3 linked regions of the Homo sapiens genome follow. The protein of the gene in region 1 interacts with the protein of each later gene in a biochemical or structural test. Each region holds a gene or a part of one and is shown on either strand. Other genes may lie near its edges. The genes, in order: POU2F1, POU2AF1 and RXRA.

The links.
Region 2: the proteins of POU2F1 (region 1) and POU2AF1 are reported together in a solved structure, tested with the Homo sapiens proteins (2 studies listed by BioGRID, with this or other methods).
Region 3: the proteins of POU2F1 (region 1) and RXRA form a complex in vitro, tested with the Homo sapiens proteins (2 studies listed by BioGRID).

What each region holds. Positions count from the first base shown.
Region 1 is NC_000001.11:167,223,772-167,227,420, reverse strand, and holds part of POU2F1 (POU domain, class 2, transcription factor 1), read right to left. Parts: intron 1-3,649. UniProt on the Homo sapiens protein: Transcription factor that binds to the octamer motif (5'-ATTTGCAT-3') and activates the promoters of the genes for some small nuclear RNAs (snRNA) and of genes such as those for histone H2B and immunoglobulins.
Region 2 is NC_000011.10:111,351,633-111,355,302, forward strand, and holds the end of POU2AF1 (POU domain class 2-associating factor 1), read right to left. Parts: exon of another isoform or gene 2,944-3,670; coding exon 2,629-2,943; 3' UTR 623-2,628; downstream 1-622. UniProt on the Homo sapiens protein: Transcriptional coactivator that specifically associates with either POU2F1/OCT1 or POU2F2/OCT2. It boosts the POU2F1/OCT1 mediated promoter activity and to a lesser extent, that of POU2F2/OCT2. It recognizes the POU domains of POU2F1/OCT1 and POU2F2/OCT2.
Region 3 is NC_000009.12:134,427,420-134,431,068, forward strand, and holds part of RXRA (retinoic acid receptor RXR-alpha), read left to right. Parts: intron 1-1,688; coding exon 1,689-1,821; intron 1,822-3,649. UniProt on the Homo sapiens protein: Receptor for retinoic acid that acts as a transcription factor.

The sequences.
Region 1 (3,649 bases):
TATTGTTCATTTTCCAGCCATTCCTGTTTATATCTTCTATTGCAAAGAGAAAGTTCAACAGAGGGGGGGAAACCTGCCATAATAATTATTATTATTGATTTAATTTCATATACCATTTCTATATTCCAACATAAAAAGCATAAAGTTACAAAGAATTATGAAATAAATAATGTGATAAACTGCACTTGCTATGACTTTCAATATTGAAGACTTAGTAAAGCTACTACAAACACTTAGCTTTGTGGAATGTGAACATTGGCTGTTAAAAAAAAGTTAGTATAATGTATCCTCTCCGGATAAATGTCCAGGAGTTCCAGCAGTTTAAAAGAAATCTGGGCCAGGTGTGGTAGCTCATGCCTGTAGTCCCAGCACTTGGGGAGGCCACAGTAGGACTGCTTAAGCCCAGGAGTTTTAGACTAGCCTAGGCAACATAGCAAGACCCCATCTCTTAAAAAAAATTAAAAATAAGAGAAAATAAATGAATAAAAGATAATCTGATAAATCTAGAGGTTTGCTGATTCTTCTTTTGCTCAATTACTAGTCCTGTCAGCAAATGTAGGCAACACTGAAATCTTGAGTGCTTGCTTAATTGGAAATAAATAAATAAATAAATAAAACCCAAAAACAAAAGAGCTCTATTAGTCACTGAGTATACAAAGATACCAATGCTCAAAAAATTCACACCCCATAGTAAAAACACACAGAACCCCATAACCACATGCACTGTATGCAAGGAGCATCTTCAAATCAGAACTTCTGAAACTCAAGACAATTCTCATATTCCAAATTCTAAACATACTGTAAACGGATCAAGTAAGTCAGGCAATAGCTCTACTCAGGCTATTTTTGTTTCCATTGTTATTACTGCTGAAACAGTTTATAAGAGCTCATCACCTGTTTAGAACACAGAAATACTTCGGTACAAAACAAACCAATTTATTCCTAAGAAGAATTAAAATCTACAGTTATTCAATTCTCTTTACTTATGAAATGTCAATAATGCACAAAAATGTCCAGCGAAAGATGCATAAGGAAACTGCTATTCTCTGTGAACCTTAATTATTATCCCTTTCAACCACTCAAAAGGATATTTACATCCTTTAAGCAACACAGTAAGAAGTAAGCAAAATGGTGACTCAAAGTTACCCCAAAAAAAGGAAAAGGAAAAAATTCATGCAGAAAGGGTACAGAAATTCAAAGCAGATATGTCACTGAATCAAATCAACAACTTTCAACTCTAACGCCCAAGAAATAGTAAGTACATTTGCTCAGGCATTTAGCATTTAAGGAGGGATCAGAAACAAGAACATGGATAACCAAAAGGGGGCATGTTTTGTTTGTGACTTGGTCTGTTCCCTAAACGCAAATTACCTGAATAGTTCTAAATTCAAATGCAATCACTTTCATTAGGAAAAACACATTCCTGCTTAAAATCAGGCTTCATAGCAAGTCTTTACTAATCACAAAAACTGTGTAATTAACACAATTATATAAAGGCAAATTAATGAGTCACACAACATTATTTTTAATGGTGCTTGAAAGACTAATATGCAAAGATTACAACTATGGGGTTTCAAAATTAAAAAACAAAACAAAAATAACCGATAACAACAAGGCAATCACTACTACATAATATTACAGTCTTCCAAGTACAAAGGAAACATTCATGAAAATGAGTGACCAACTTAAAAAACACAAATAAATTCAAGATGAAGCAATACAGATTCAAGAAGCAGGTCAAATATTTCAATTTTTAATAGAAAATACTTAAAGATAACATTCAAATTTCCACTTCTGTTATTTCAGAACCACCTGCCTAAGATATTCAAGGGTCTATTAAACATCTTTGGTGGCTTGAGAAGAGCAACGTAACATTTTGAGCCCTGAACTTATTGCAAAATCCACTAACCAGATGAATGGCAGATTGACAATTACTTCAAACTAGGCAGCAATGAAACATATTTTATTTACACTGCTTTATACTACCTATTGATGTAGAGAATAGTAAATTTAAAATATGGCAGAACACTACACCTGAATTCATTTGAACCTGAATAATAGCTACGGTTTGTTTTTTCCTTGTCTACTGGGATTTTTGACAATGACAAAATGAAAGGAATTACAAACTAATTTGAGGGAAGAGGTTAAAAATTGCTTTTACGGTAATGGTTTGGAAGCAGAACAGTCCTTTAGAAATCAAAAACAGTTGGTCAGCTGTCACATGAATTTTCAAGACCTTGATTCAAAAGTATCATTGTAATTAATAGGTGGGAGAGTTAAGAAAGTGACAACGGGCTGGGCATGGTGGCTCACGCCTGTAATCCAGCACTTTGGAAAGCCGAGGCGGGTGGATCCCTTGAGGTCAGGAGTTCGAGACCAGCCTGGCCAACACGGTGAAACCCCGCCTCTACAAAAAATACAAAAATTAGCCGGGCGTCATGGCGCATGCCTGTAGTCCCAGCTACTAAGGAGGCTGAGGCAGGAGAATCACTGGAACCCACGAGGCAGAGGTTGCAGTGAGCCGAGATCGCACCAACGCACTCCAGCCTGGGAGACAGAGCAAGACTCTGTCTGGAAAAAAAAAAAAAAAAAAAAGAAGACAGTGACAATGGATTTCCTAGAAATACGCAGGAAACTACTTGACAGATGCAAAAGGAGACAGGCAGGTTATAAACTCATGTGGGTTCAAAAGTAACCTAAAATACTCTATCAAAATTGGATCACAAATTCAGGTTAGAAATAAAGCAATTTTATCACATTCTCAGGGAATTTTAATCATCACCTTAAAATAAACTAATAATTAAAAATATGAGAAATGTCTTACAAGAAAATCTATTAATATGTCAAAAATTCTAAGTGCAATCACTGTTGCAATGGAACAATTTTAAAATCACTAATCAAAACAAAATGAACAAACTTGTCCAGACTAAGATAAATCCAAAAAGAATTCTGAATTTTTTTTAAAAAATCTGTTTTAAAAGCACATGCTTTCCTGTGAGTATTCTACCTTATTTTCAACATTATCATTTCCACCTTAAAGAATACACAGCCCTCATTCTCAACTCTGCTTTATTCACTGAAATGGATTCTAAGGCAAATGGTCTCTCCATTAGCCTAAGCCATGCTCTGATTAAGAAACACAGTTTCTTATAAAAGTCTGGGGGATCACAACAAACATTTATATGGGTCACTTCTATGACTATCTATCTAAAACCCAAATACTCCATTTGAGAATTTTGAGGAAATGAATTTTTACAATAGCATTAAAAGTGAACCAAAATATAAGGCCAGTTAACAACATCCATCCTTTTCTGTATTACAAAAACTGTAACAGCGAAATTTTGCTTGTAAAATCCAATGTACATTTTATCATTTTGTATAAAATATCTACGGCCTCAGTAGTGATTAAATTGCAGCTATAAAGGAAATTGACCCGAAATAAATGGTTTCCCTATGAGAAGGCTTCACTGCTACACTTCACCTCAGGACAATAAATCAAATTAACTGCACCTTGTCCTCTGTCCAATGACATCATCAGTTTGACCACATCTTGGGAATCGGGTGCAAAAACATATGCTATTTAAGGCATGAAATTATATTGCTGCTTTTTGTCCATCTGACCTCATACTTCAGGTCTCTGAAGCAGTCA
Region 2 (3,670 bases), on another chromosome or scaffold:
CTGGTTTTATCTTCTTCTGCAACAGATCAATTTGCAAAGTCAACAAGACTAGTGTTAAGTTCCTTCCTCTAATCACACTGTCTAACATGGGACTGAAAGCTTAGGGGGATCAACTTGATAAGAAATGAAACACTTTGGCACAGAAAAGTCTCTACAAATCTTTATGAAAATGTTTCCATCTTAGCAGAGTAACTCGGGAAGAAACCCAGATGGACTACTACCAAGACATTTGACCTCAAGATAAGAGAAAAAATAGACCATTTATCTTAGCAAACACGTAAAGTACTATATTTCTTTGCTAGTTTTTGCCAACTTTAACTCCTTTACGGAGGTTGCTTCTGCACCCTCTCAAATGGTACGCTGAAAAATCTTGCATAGTGTCTTTTTTTATGGAAAACCAGGGCTTTTAATCAAATAGGACTGAGAGCCCTGCCCACCTACTTACCATCAGTACCGACAAAGATGTAAATGCATCTTCTCAAATGCTGTCTTGAACTTTTAAATCTAAAAAATATCTGAATAAAAACAATTCAAGATTTGTGTACTGGGATTTAAGGCAGGCACAGAGAAATCTGGGTCAAAATTAATCTTAAGCAGAAAAAGAAAATCCAAAACAGACAACTTTCTCCAGAGTTTTTATTTAAAGTGGGCAAAGAAAATATGTCAAAGAAACTGTCATTTCCCAGAAAAGTCATTTCCCAGAAAAGTCCATGACTTCTACATGGATTCTACCAACTGAAATGTCTGCTTAATAGTGACGATGGTGCTATTAGCAGGTGGGTGAGCCAGTTCCCAAGGTACACGTTCACTATCAAGAGCTAAGCACACCTGCTAACAACTCAGTCTCCTACAAACCTGATGTTTCTCCAGCAAAACAAATTAAAATTAAACCTAATGGTACTTCTGGCTGAGGCTCCAGAGGTCCCCAGGAGGGAGGGTGTTTGCGTGGAGGGGGCCTTGGTTCCACAGAATGGTGGCTTATGGACGCTTTTAAGACACTAAAGAAACCCACATGGTAAAAGGCTGGGTGCGGTGGCTCACGCCTGTGATCCCAGCACTCTGAGAGGCTGAGGCGGGCGGATCACAAGGTCAGGAGTTCGAGACCAGCCTGGCCAACATGGTGAAACCCCGTCTCTACTAAAAATACAAAAATTAGCCAGGCATGGTGGCATGCACCTGTAATCCCAGCTACTCGGGAGGCTCAGGCAGGAGAATCACTTGAACTTGGGAGACAGAGGTGCAGTGAGCCAAGATCGCACCATTGTACTCCAGCCTGGGCAATGGAGTGAGACTCCGTCCCAAAAAAAACCAAAAAAAAGAAAGAAAGAGAGAGGAAGGAAGGAAGGAAGGAAGGAAGGAAAGAAGGAAGGAAGGAAGGAAGGAAGGAAGGAAGGAAGGAAGGAAGGAAGGAAGGAAGGAAGGAAAGAAACAAAACCCACATGGTAGCACTAAGCCTAGGCGAGGACCCATCACCTTTAGGCTTAATGGGGTCTTGGCCTCCACAGCACCAGCAGAGGGCCTAGAGGTGAGACAGAAATGGCCGACCAAACACACCCTTCACCCTGTTTACAACAGCCCAACTTCCCTTGCACGTATCCTCAAGGAGAGCAGCAAAACCATCTCTTCAAGCAATGCTTTCCTTTAGTTTATTGTTCTTCTTAATAACCAAGTAATCTGGAGCCAAGTCATTCCTCAGCCTTCCTCCTCCCTGCATCAAACTCAAGCTTCCTCCCACACCCCTCTCTCCAACTAAGATGCACAGCCTGTTCCCATCCCTCCTCTGTCCCTCTCTTCGTCACTGGCCTGTCCCCACCCACCCTGATGTTCTTTTCTCCCTGCCACCCACTTCCCACCCCTTACTACTCTGAGCCCCAGGCCTTGAGATTTTGCTGCCTGGACTGTAAATCTGGCCGAGGCTGAGAAGAGCAAACAAAGGAGCAACTGTGGGAACTGACAGCTCAAGGACTCTGGCATCAGGGTAGGCCCTTGGCTGACTTTCTCAGGAGGTGCTGTCGGGGCTGGTCTTCCCGCCGGCCACCACATACATCTTAAAATTACAGAGGGTGTGAGTGACCCTAAGATGGTTCAGCAGGCACTGGAGGAAGGAGGCCTTTTCCAAGAAATGAAATGTGACAGAAATGAAAGCCCATGGACCACAGACTTGGCAACATTTGACATAAAATGTTATTGCTAAAATCCCTATAATTACCTCCCAAAATGGAACAGAATTGAAAAAAGAAGTAAGAAAGAGAGAAGAAGCGAGGGAGGGAGGGAGGTAAAGAAGGAAAGGGAGAAGGGAAGGAGGGAAGGAAGGGAGGGAGGAAAAGGAAGGAAGGGGTTGGAAAGGGAGAAGGGAAGGAGGGAAGGAAGGGAGGGAGGAAAAGGAAGGAAGGGGTTGGAAAGGAAGAAGGGAGGGAGGGGAAGAATGGAAGGATGGGGGAGAGGGAGGAAGTGAGGGAGGGAGGGGAAGGAAGAAGGGAAGGAAGGTTTACAGGTCTACAATTCTAGCTGTGCGTAGAAAGTGTAGTCATGAAATGACTACTCCAAACAAGCATGAACCTGGGGCTCAATTCCAGGCTCATTTTAAAATCCCAGTTTCAGGGAACAGGACTCAGGTGGGAGCCACGCCTAAAAGCCTTCCACAGAGAGAGTGTGGTTAAGCGCATAGGCGTCGCTATCCTCTTCCTCCAAAAGCAGCTTGTCGATGGTCAACGAGCTGGCGGCTCTTCTGGGGTCTTCCATGTCCTGAAGGACTGGCTCTGGGATAGAGATGGGGAGCTGGACAAACTGGGGCCCAGGTAGGGCTGGGGCCGGAGGCTGGTACTGCAGGGTGGAGGTGGGTAGTGTGGAAAGGGGCTGAGGCCACGGGAAATAGGTGAGGGGTGCCTGGTGCTCTGGGCCCTCCAGCGGGGGCCCCACTGCGGGCGTGGCGGAGCTTCTTGTCTGTGACAGGAAAACACGTGACAGAGGGTTAGCAGCCCCAGGAGACCCATCCACCCATCCTTGCCCTTAGAGGGGTCTCCATCTCCCCCTTCAATTCTGCCCTTTCCTGGTTTCTCACTTCATGGGGCTCCACCTCCTCCTGCTCAAAGTCTTCCCCAAGGGAGGAGCCAGGCTGACTTCAACCGCAGCCCCAATCCTGACCCTTCCTAGCTATATGTCTTTGCTCAGGCCACTTCCTGCTCAGAAGGCTCATTTTTCTCATCTACGAAATAGAATACAAACAGTAATGAACTCATTGGGTTAGGCCAATTAGAGAGGATTTTCCAGGTTTCGTTGAATACAAAATTCATTTCTATTTCAGAGATCTTAAAACATTAAAAATATATGCATCTTAAAATCTGTGAAAATATATGTTAAACCACAGCCTGGAAGCTGTATCTGGAAGGTGGCCACTGTCCTGCCCAGACACAAAGACAGTCCGGGCTCCACACAACAGCTTTGGAGGTCCCCTTGGGCCAACACAGCTCCATCACCTCCCACCCCTCTAGTGGTGGCCAGCATGGGGAGGCCTGGCCATCCCCAGATGGGGGAAGCACTGCTTTGTCAGCAAACTTGGCCTTCCTTCCTGCTGCTGCCTGGTGCCTTCCACATCCTCATCGTCCTCTGTCTCTGAGCTGATCTCCATGGCCATCCCACTTATGGGCACCCCCCATGACCCTCCAAGTGT
Region 3 (3,649 bases), on another chromosome or scaffold:
GTATTTCCAGCCCTGGCTTTTCCATCAGACCGCCCGTGGTGCCGTCTGCATGCTCCCACGGTGATGGGGCACAGACCCCACCGTTCCTCCCTCATTTTGGTTGCACAGCCTGGGGCCAGTTGGGTGCCATCCCTGCCTGGTCTGTCAGCACACCTGGGCGGGGCGGCCTCGGGGGTGGGAACTCCCTCCTGGGGCCCTGGGATTACTCAGTTGTGAAATGGGGAGAATGGGGACGGTGACACCTGCCCCCGGGTTCCCCATGACAGGGTGGGTATGTGCTGGGAGGGTGTGGAGGGCCGAGCCGGAGCTGGCACGGTGGTCCCCACCAACTTCTTGCTGATCACTTACCCCCTCATGCCTCAGTTTCCCCCTCTGTAAAACAAAGTTAATGCCAGTTTTCCAGGATTACAGTTGGGATTAAGTGGGAAATTAATGACAGTGTCGGCCATAGAGGCTGGAGCCTCTAGAGCGCTCAGGGAGTGTGGAAGGTGCTGAAGGTGACTGTGTGACTGCAGGTGACTCCATGTCACCCTGTCTATAAGAGCTGTTAAAACAGCAGTGCGTGTGTGCGCGAGGGTCCCTGACTGTGTGACTGCAGGTGATTCCACGTCACCCGGTCTCCAGGAGCCCTTAAAACAGCAGTGCGTGTGCACGCGAGGGTCCCTGTTTCTTCCTCCCCGATGCCTGCTCTGCTTCATCTGCACTGGAACCTCATGTTGAGGGGCTGCTGTTACCTAACTGTCTGCCCCCCAGGGAACCCCCACTATGTTGAGAGGCTGCTGTTACCTAACCACCCGCCCCAGGGAACCCCCACTGTGTTGAGGGGCTGCTGTTACCTAACCACCTGACCCCCAGGGAACCCCCACTATGTTGAGGGGCTGCTGTTACCTAACTGTCCCCCAGGGAACCCCCTGATGTTGAGGGGCTGCTGTTACCTAACTGTCTGCCCCCCAGGGAACCCCCACTATGTTGAGAGGCTGCTGTTACCTAACCACCCGCCCCAGGGAACCCCCACTATGTTGAGGGGCTGCTGTTACCTAACCACCCACCCCCCAGGGAACCCCCCGATGTTGAGGGGCTGCTGTTACCTAACCACCCGCCCCAGGGAACCCCCACTATGTTGAGGGGCTGCTGTTACCTAACCACCCGCCCCAGGGAACCCCCACTATGTTGAGGGGCTGCTGTTACCTAACCTTCCCCCCTGGGAATCCCCCCGAAAGAGGCTGCGGCTCTCACGCACCTGCCTTCAGTTGGATAACCTGCTGTTTGGTGGCATTCCACGAAGGGCACACAGATCCCCGAGAGTCCTGGGACCCTGCTGGCAGCAGTGGTTCTGGGGCCATCCTGGGAACATCCCTGGGTGCTCTCCCACGTGCTCCGTGGCAGGAGTGTCCTGCACACGCGGGAGGAAGCTTCTGGGGCACATGAGTTTGTGAGCTCCCGGGTTCCACAAAGCTCAAGGGACTTTGTGTGGGACTTCTCAGGGCCTTTCGTGTGCCGGTGTGTACTGTAGAACGGGCATTCTCAGGAACCTCTTTTCTGTGGAACACTTCATGGGATTGGGGTTCCAGAGCCTGTCAGGATGGGTCGGTGACATGCTGCCTCTGTAGGGTCCCACCAGGGGCTGGGGAAGGGGCGAGCCCCGTGGGGCCTGGAGACAGCTGAGTGACTGTGTGCCTCCTCCCCAGGCTGGAATGAGCTGCTCATCGCCTCCTTCTCCCACCGCTCCATCGCCGTGAAGGACGGGATCCTCCTGGCCACCGGGCTGCACGTCCACCGGAACAGCGCCCACAGCGCAGGGGTGGGCGCCATCTTTGACAGGTGGGGGTGGTCCCGGGAGGGGCGAGGGCGCTTCGGTCACCTCCGCCACCAGGCCAGCTGAGTTCAGCCACCTTGGCCCCGGTGCACATCCTGCCTAGTATTATTTCAGTGCATGAAGGGTGCACACATGGAAAAAGAGAAAAGCATGAGGAGGAGGCTCAGAGCCCTGTGCCAGCCCTGCCTCTGGGGCATCTGTAACCACAGGGAGCACTTGGCCTATCTCCCTCCATCTCTTCTTTTTTCACGATCCCATGTATTTATCCGTGGGAAGGAAAGCTTCGTTTCTTTTTAAAGTGATTATACCGTAGATGCAGTTTTGTAAAAGTGTCAATTCCAGTTGGCATGTCGCAGGCTGCTTGAGGCTGGCACGGTAATGCCGTGGCAGCCCGGGGCGTGGTGCGGCCTAACGCCTGTCCCCGTGCAGGCAGGGGTGTCGGGACCGCAGTGCTTCACACCTCCCAGTGGAGCAAAGGGCTGCACCTCAGCCACTTCTCAGGGGACACACTGGAGGAGCAGCACTGGCTGGAGGGCCCACCCTCGTCCGGGCCTGGGTGGTCCGTGTCCGTTCATGTTGCCCTCCTGGAGTGCTGGCCAACTCCGCTCTGCCAGGCGAGGCGGACAGTAGCTTCCTTGTCCCTGTCTCTGCACAGCCTTTTTTTTTTTGAGATGGAGTCTCGCTCTGTCGCCCAGGCTAGATTGCAGTGGTGCAATCTTGGCTCACTGCAAGCTCCGCCTCCCGGGTTCACACCATTCTCCTGCCTCAGCCTCCCGAGTAGCTGGAACTACAGGCGCCCGCCACCACGCCCGGCTATTTTTTTTGTATTTTTAGTAGAGACGGGGTTTCACCGTGTTAGCCAGGATGGTCTCGATCTCCTGACCTCGTGATCCGCCCACCTCGGCCTCCCAAAGTGCTGGGATTACAGGCGTGAGCCGCCGCGCCCGGCCTCTCTGCACAGTCTTTCTCCACGAGTCTAGAGAGCCACACACACCAGACTGGGCCTTCTGGGGACCGGATGTCAGCTTCAGCTGGAGCGGGAAGGCTGGGGAGGGGCACTGCGGGGTCCCTTGGGCAGGGGTCTGCAACACAGGAGCCGTGGGTGGGGAGGAGCAGGCCACCTGGAGAACGTGGCCCCTGAACACGAGAGCCCCAACGTTAGAGGTGAGTAGAGGCCATGCACCGGCACTTACAGGGGGATTAATGCCCCAGCAGCAATGCCCCAGGGGGTGGTTCAGGTCCCAGAGTCCCAAGGGTGATCCTGGAACTTGACCTCCATGGGATGTGCCAAGTGCAAAAGGGTTTGTGGCCGCAGACGGTGGGCAAACGGTAGTTCAAACAGTGTCCTTGAGGGTCTTTGCCGCAGGACTTGTCAGGGCCTTTAAGAAGTTAGTGTACAGGAGGGTCCCCACGGGGGCTGCAGGGTGCAGTGTGCAGTGTGTATTGCCCACAGAAGCTTCTTTAGAGGGGTACTGGGGATATGGCTTTGGGAAGCGAAGCCCCAGCCACTTGCCCAGCTGACAGATCCTTTGTCTGGCTGGTAGAGAGATGGCGATGACAGAGGTTTCAGGGTTACATTCTCTGGGGTCCCACAGCAGTGACTACAGAGGCCCCGGCATTTCCTCGCCTTTTTTGCGAGTGGAATGCAAAGTCTGCCCTCAGTGGCCCAGGTCTTTTCCATGCCCGCTGCCCCATCCCTCTGCAGCTGTGTGCTCCTGCCTCAGAGCAGACATCGGGGGTCCCTCCCAGCTCCTGTTCTGTCCCACCCTGTTCTCCAGCCTCCTTCAGATCTTCTTCCAGGAATCAACCAGGGCACTCCCCATTCTGCAGACC